Homo sapiens: one gene and its partner. The protein of the gene in region 1 purifies or fractionates together with the protein of each later gene. This does not show direct contact. Each region holds a gene or a part of one and is shown on either strand. Other genes may lie near its edges.

Region 1 (3,500 bases):
TCTTGCACCTGGGAGGCAGAGGTTGCAGTGACCTGAGATTGCACCATTGCACTCCAGCCTGGGCAATAAGAATAAAACTCCGTCTCAAAAAAAAAGTATATGAGGAATATATTCTTATAGTGCTTTGTGTGAAAAAATAAAATGGTAATGTATAATAAGACTAGAATATATTGGTATACAAGAAAACTTTAGAAAGTGTTGTTTTGTCTTTCATTGCAAATTAAAGGATACCTCTGACATGAGAGTAGTGAACAAGCGGTACGTGGTAATTTTCCTTTATCCTGCCTTTTGCATTTGGTCAAATCAAACAGAGTCAACAGAGAAGGTAATTGAGGCTCCCTCCACAGCTAACTGTTGGTTATCTAGTTCTTTGTTCCATTGGGGCTACAGATGTCAAATTTTTGGGAAATTTTAGCTGCAAATTCGGCTGTATTTTTCTTATTCATTATGAAAATGCCATGTGCTGCTTTGGGAAGTAATACATGCTTCCCTTTCATTGGAAGCATTTAAGTAGAAGTAGGGTAATAATAATGATTAACATGTACTGACAATTTACTTTGTACTATTTATCTTGGTATCAACTCTTTGAGATGAGAACTATTACTATTTTCTATTAAGATGAGAAACCAAGGCCTAGAGAGGTTAAATAGCTGGGATAAAGTGAAAAACTAATGACTGGCAGAGATGGGATTCAAACCTAAGGAGGTCTGATGTTAGAACATACACGCTAACTATTGTTACACACTACCTGTTCCTTGAGGGATGTGAATGGAGGGATTTGCTGTTTTGCTTGGGAGATTGTAATAGAAAGCCTTCCAAGGCTTTCTAACTCTTAAAAGACTAGGACTTTTTTTTTTTCTTTTCTATTTTTTTGAGGCAAGGTCTTGCTCTGTCATTTAGGCTGGAGTACATTGGCATGATTATGGCTCACTGCAGCCTCAACCTCCCTGGCTCAAGCGATTCTCCCACCTTAGCCTCCTAAGTGGCTGGGACTACAGATGTGCACCCAATGCCTGGCTAGTTATTTTATTTTTTTGTAGAGATAGGGCCTCACTGTGTTGCCCAGGTTGGTGTCAAATTCCTGTTCTCAAGCAACCCTCCTGCCTTCACCTCTCAAAGTGCTGGAATTACACGTGTGAGCCACCATGCTGGAACAGAAGGCTGGAATTTTGAAGTGGTCCATGTTACTTGTCAGGCCTACCTTGGTCCTCCTATTTACTGTTCCTCAACTGGGGCCTTCTTATCTCTGCTTATTAGATTGGCCCTCTACCAAAAGCTATCATTACTTGAAGCCTAGAGCAGTTAGCCTCAAATGTTAGGATACTAACCTTTAAAACACATTAGCATTTAAAAAAATTTAGATTCCTGTGGTAGGTCAGAGTTCTGTTTTACTTTGGGATATAGCGTAGTAATTTTCCCCCTTACCCGCATTGTTCCATGTAGTAGTTATTTAGGCAGCCTTAGCACATCCTGAAACAACATCCAGTCCTCCCTGTTCCAGGTTGCCACCTGTCTTTGGTCTTAGTTGAGGTAATAGGATTTTGCTTTGTTTCCCGGATCCTGTTCTGTGTCTATTAACTGTATTTTACCTTAGCCCTTTCCTGAGGCTCTATTCTTTTTTGTTTTTTGAGACAGGGTCTCACTCCCATTGCCCAGGCTGGAGTGCAGTGGTGCAATCTCAGCTCACCACAGCTTCGACTTCCCAGGCTCAAGCCATCCTCCCACCTCAGCCTCCTAAGCAGCGGGGACTGCAGGCGTATGCCACCATGCCTGGCTAATTTTTTTTTGTAGTTTTAGTTGAGACAGGGTTTTACCATGTTGCTCAGGCTGATCTGGGACTCCCAGGCTCAAGAGACCTACCAACCTTGGCCTCCCAAAGTGCTGATTACAGGCATGAGCCTGAGATTCTATTCTAGTAACATGCTTTGTTCTCTGGTTTCTAGAACTGGTCCTGCCACCATCTTTGCCAGACTCTCTCCCAGGGATCAGGTTGGCAGGCTTATCTGAGTTGTCAGATGGCATGGATTTCCGAGAATCTTCTTGTCTTTCCTTTACTGAGCTGTCTTCATCCATTGAAACTCCTGCCACCCTTATACTCCCTTAGCAGCCCTGCTACCTGTGGTTGTAGTTAAGAATATCTCCTACTCCATATTTCAGGAAGGGGCAGGACATTTTTTTTTTTTTGAGATGGAGTCTCGCTCTGTCACCCAGGCTGGAGTGCAGTGGTGTGATCTTGGCTCACTGCAATCTCTGCCTCCCCGGTTCAAGCGATTCTCCGGCCTCAGCCTCCTGAGCAGCTGGGACTACAGACATGTGCCACCATGCCCAGCTAATTTTGAATTTTTAGTGGAGACAGGGTTTCACCATGTTGGCTAGGATGGTCTCAATCTCTTGACCTTGTGATCCGCCTGCCTCGGCCACCCAAAGTGCTGGGATTACAGGCGTGAGCCACTGTGCCCGGCCAAGAACATTTTAAAATCTACCAATCTACCATTTATCCTGCCTTCTTTCCCTTTGAGGTCTCTTGGCTATATGCCACCTCTGCTCTGGAGGATTTTTGCATTTCTTTCTGGTTTGGGGCTTCTTAGAGCTTCCTTTGTAATTAGGATAGAGATAGGAAGAATGATAGACACAAAAGGTGTTTACCTTTGCTGCTTGCTTTACTTGCTATGTGTGTTTCTGCCTCCTGTGCTTGTGTACTCTGGGGCACTGAGCACACCATAGGTGACATGGTGCTAGATATGTTTAATGAGACAGTATGGTGCTGGTCTCCAGTGATGAGTGACAATGGACAACATTCATTCATTCACCCACCTCTTCCACAAATAGTAATAATTTATTTGTGACAGAATCTCACTTTGTTGCCGAGGCTGGAGTGCAGTGCAGTGGTGTGATCTTGGTTCCCTGCAACCTCTGCGTTTTGGGTTCAAGCGATTCTCCTGCCTCAGGCGCCCAAGTAGCTGGGACAACAGGCATGGGCCACCATGCCCGGCTAATTTTTATGTTTCTGGTAGGGATGGGGCTTCACCATGTTGGTCAGGCTGGTCTTCAACTCCTGACCTCAAGTGATCCTCCCGCCTTGGCCTCCCAGGGTGCTGGGATTACAGGCCACAAATAATTATTGAGCATCTACTGTGTGCTTTCTGGAAGTATATGATTTTTCACTCAAGGATTTTATACTTTAGTGGGCAGGGGTAAAATAGATAAATTCACTGCTGTGAGGTACAGTAATACTTAGATAATAGTGTGTGGAGTGTCTTGGGAGCAGCTGGGAGAGGCATTTAACCCAGCGGGTGGTAAGGAGTACTGGAAGGACAGCTTCCTGAAAAAGGTGATACTGAGCTGAGGCTTGAAGATATATTTTAACCTTAAAAATGAATTCCTCAGGGGGAAGAATGGATGCCTTGAAACTTGCTCTCAAGTTTTTCATGTGTTTCTTTTTGTAACTTAATGTCTCTACTTTGCATATGTCCCTTTGGCCTTTGCAGTCTCTATGTCTG
Region 2 (3,500 bases), on another chromosome or scaffold:
TTTTCTTTGATGAATAACTCTTACTTGAATAACAGGTGTTTCTAAAAATGGCAAGTCTGTTAAAGAAAAGCAAATGCCTGTGTGATGCTGAGCACAGAAGCCAAACACATACCAGGATTTCCCGGAGCTCTTCCTCTCGCTGCTGCTTCTCTTTGAGCAGCTGCTGGAGCAGGGAGCTGAGGGCCCAGCGCTGCTCCGAGATCATCTCCTGCGAACAAGACCACACCCCGCACCACCGTGAGCTGGCGGCAGCGCAGGAGTCCCGCAGTGGCAGGATGGAGAAGGGCCTGGCCTCCCGCTCACTCGGTTCTCTGCCCAATGCCTCCAGGCTGCGTTGGGGGACAAAGCTAAGAGGCCCTTCTGCCCCCTTACCCTAAGCCCGCATCTCTCTTCCTTGTGGGGTTAAGTCAGGCATGGGATCCTGGTGACTGATGACAATGGGATGGTAAGAAACATCAAACAAAAGAAATGACAAGCCACAGGTGCCTGCCTTTGGTCTCCCAGACAACAGAGCACATGGGCAGAAGCAAATGGCGGGGAGCAGTGTGGGGCCCCACACAAATGGAGGTGCGTGCAAACCAGAGCCTGGGGTCCCTGCTTCACTCCTGCGCCTGCTCTTGGAAACCCCATGGGGGCCCCAACAGCCAGAGCCCTGCCACACTTGTGGGCAGGGACTAGGGCACCCGCCAGGCATGATGACCGCAGCTTCTCTGAGAGCAGTCCCAGTCCCCTCATCTCTGGAGATCATTTCAAGGCTCACAAAGGGCTTTCCCTTGCTAGCTCAGCCTTCTCCGATGGCCTGATGGCACAGGCTGGGCCTGGAGGACCGCTGCCATCTTATGGAGTAGGGGAAGAAGGCCTGGAGGGGCAGAGGCCTGTCTAAGGGCACACAGCACACCTGCGGTGCACCTGAGACCAGGGATCCAGATCCCAGACCCTTCACTGCACTGAGGAGTCCATGGGATGGCTTGAGACTTCTCCACTGAGAACAGACACAGGGACAGTGACAGACCGAAGGCTCTGCTCAAACTCCTGGCACAGGCACATGTCCTCACACACCATCCCATCCAGCCCTCCGTCTGCAGCTGGAGAGGCTGAGGTTCAGAGAGGGGAAAGGGCTGCCTCTCCTCCCCCACCTGCCAAAGTTGCACAGCAGGGCTGTGCTGGGCCACACCCGGCTCCCAGGCATCCAGTCCAGGACGCCAGCTGCCAGTCCCTGCTGCCCTCTCATCTGTGTGCGCAGGACTCCCGGGCTGGAGCCCCAGAGATGCTGCCTGCAGGGAGTTACACAGATGCGGCTGGGCCCTCTCCTCCAGACAACCCGGGACACCCAAAAGCTCCAGCCCTGGAGGATGTGTGCCTGGGGGCCTAAAGCACGGCCTACAGAGAGAGACAGGAGCTCAGCGGCGGGCCCGCACCCAGCACAGGAGACACAGTGATGGAGATGAGCAGGGGAGCCTTGGCAATGAAACCCTCCTTCCTCTGACCCTCCTGCCTCGCAACAGGCTGACCACCTCTAACCTTGGCCTGCGCTGGGCCTTCTGGGGCTGGGGGGTGTCCTCTGGTGTCACAGCCACAGAGGAGCTCTGCCCTCTGTCTGCTGGGGAAGCCCTTGACTCCCAGGGGCTGGTGAGCAGCTGCCAGAGGCTGGGAGGGAGCACCAGGTGGGGGTCTCACCACGTGAAGGAGGGCAGGGGCAGGGAGCCCTACATACCTGGAGTGACTCTGTGTCCAGGGACTTCCTCTTTAACTCCAGCTGTGTCAGCTGCAATAACTCAGTTTCTATTAACTTAATCTAAACAGAAGACGAGACAGGGTTTTTTTTTACTCACATTAACCACAGTTCAGTTTTGTGCTGCTACTCTCTGGTGACCAAGTGGGTCTAAGAAGCCTTTCTGGGGAGGCTGGGGAGGCTCTGGAATGAGGGGAACCTGCGGGCCTGGGAACCTCGTCAAGGGGCTTGAACAAGAATTCGTTCCTTCATGGCCTCGCGTTCCTGGGGCATGGACGTGCTTGTTGTGGCCAAAATTGTTTACCAAGAGGCCAGCACAGGATCTCTCCTAGAGTGGGATCAGGATAAAGGCTTGTGCAATGGAGAGGGGGCTTTCCTTGGGGATTCAGGCCAGAGTAAAGCACAGACAGAGCTATCACCCAGTCTCCTGCTGGTCAAGTTCTCTTGTCCCTCGCATCGCTGTTGCAGGGGAGAGCAGAGGGTAGTGGAAGTGACTGAGTAACAGTGGTAGTAGTAGCTGGTATGTCTTGAGCACCTACTATGTGCTAGGCCTGTGCTGCACACTTGATGTATCATATTTCATCAATTCTCTGGCTGCTAGGAGGTATTATTGCCTCCATTTTATAGACAAGAAAACTGAGGCTCAGAGAGGTTCTCACTTGCTCAAGGACACAGAGCAGGTAAGGGAGAGATCCCTTTCTCTGGGATGCCTCAGCTCAGGGTTTAAGGGCAATAGCTGACCTGGTCAAAACCATCTGCAGTGAGAATGTGGGGGGCCCTCACAGGCTCTCCAGGGTGTGTCTAGGGGATTTTAGCCCTGGGCAGGGGTGGGGGTCAGACCCCATAGCCAGTACTTCTCTATCCTGTGCCCATGACCCTGTGACCCTCATCCCTAAGTCCCTATGACACCACCAACCCCTGGTCAGAGGAATGAGCTTCATGTCCGGCAATGTGGAATTGAAATTAAAGAGGGAAATTAAAAAGGTAAATTGGTCCAAAAAAAGAAAGAAAGAAAGAAAGAAAGAAAGAAAAATAGAGAAAGAAAAAAACCATGCAAAAATGCAAAATTCAGTGTGCTGAACATGATGCAGGAGTACTCCCATAGCCTGACGCTCACTTCAGCCCCAGCCCCAGCCCCACTCCACAGGCGGTGACCACCAAGCCGTGTAGGTGGGCTTGCCCAAGGCTTGAAGGTCAGCAGCCGGCCTGCGGGGGGTGGGGGGTATCTTGTCACATGAGGGAGGGTCTAAGAGGAGGACCGCCTCCTCCTGGGCCGAGGTCACTTTTCAGCAGGCGTCAGGACCACCGTGGCTCACAGCTCCCCCTGCCCTCTTCTGGGGGAAATACTATATGCCCCTGAGACGCCTCTGTCTGTCTGAGCTGTAGGAGCGCTGGGGCCTGCGCCGGCTGCTTTTCCCAGTGGGGAAGTCCTGCCTGGAGCAGGGACAGCAGAGGCAGCTGGAGCAGTCAAAGCCACACATCAGCACCAGCCTCCCTGGCCCAGGCGTGGTGGAGACCCGCCTCGCTGGCAAGACCCTCGCCAGACCCCGGAATAGGAGGTCTCTAGACACCCTCCCAGCAGCCCCGACACAAGGCTGGGAGCAAAGGGAGGTTCTGAGGGCAAGGCCTCGACCTCTTGTTGGGCTAGCAAGCCAAGGAGCTGGGGTTCAAACCTCAACTGCTGCGACCTGCCGCCCTGGAGGGCCACTCTGCAAGTCTCTGAGAGAGCAGGTCCAGGGACCCCAGCCCCAGCGCTCACCTGGCTCCT

Evidence for each region. The genes of interacting proteins can lie anywhere in the genome.
Region 2: the proteins of ERO1A (region 1) and LRSAM1 fractionate together in Homo sapiens (co-fractionation; one large-scale study listed by BioGRID). This does not show direct contact.

Annotation. Positions count from the first base shown.
Region 1 is NC_000014.9:52,685,559-52,689,058, reverse strand, and holds part of ERO1A (ERO1-like protein alpha isoform 2 precursor), read left to right. Parts: intron 1-3,500. UniProt on the Homo sapiens protein: Oxidoreductase involved in disulfide bond formation in the endoplasmic reticulum. Efficiently reoxidizes P4HB/PDI, the enzyme catalyzing protein disulfide formation, in order to allow P4HB to sustain additional rounds of disulfide formation.
Region 2 is NC_000009.12:127,489,510-127,493,009, reverse strand, and holds part of LRSAM1 (E3 ubiquitin-protein ligase LRSAM1), read right to left. Parts: coding exon 3,492-3,500; intron 1,796-3,491; coding exon 1,715-1,795; intron 209-1,714; coding exon 113-208; intron 1-112.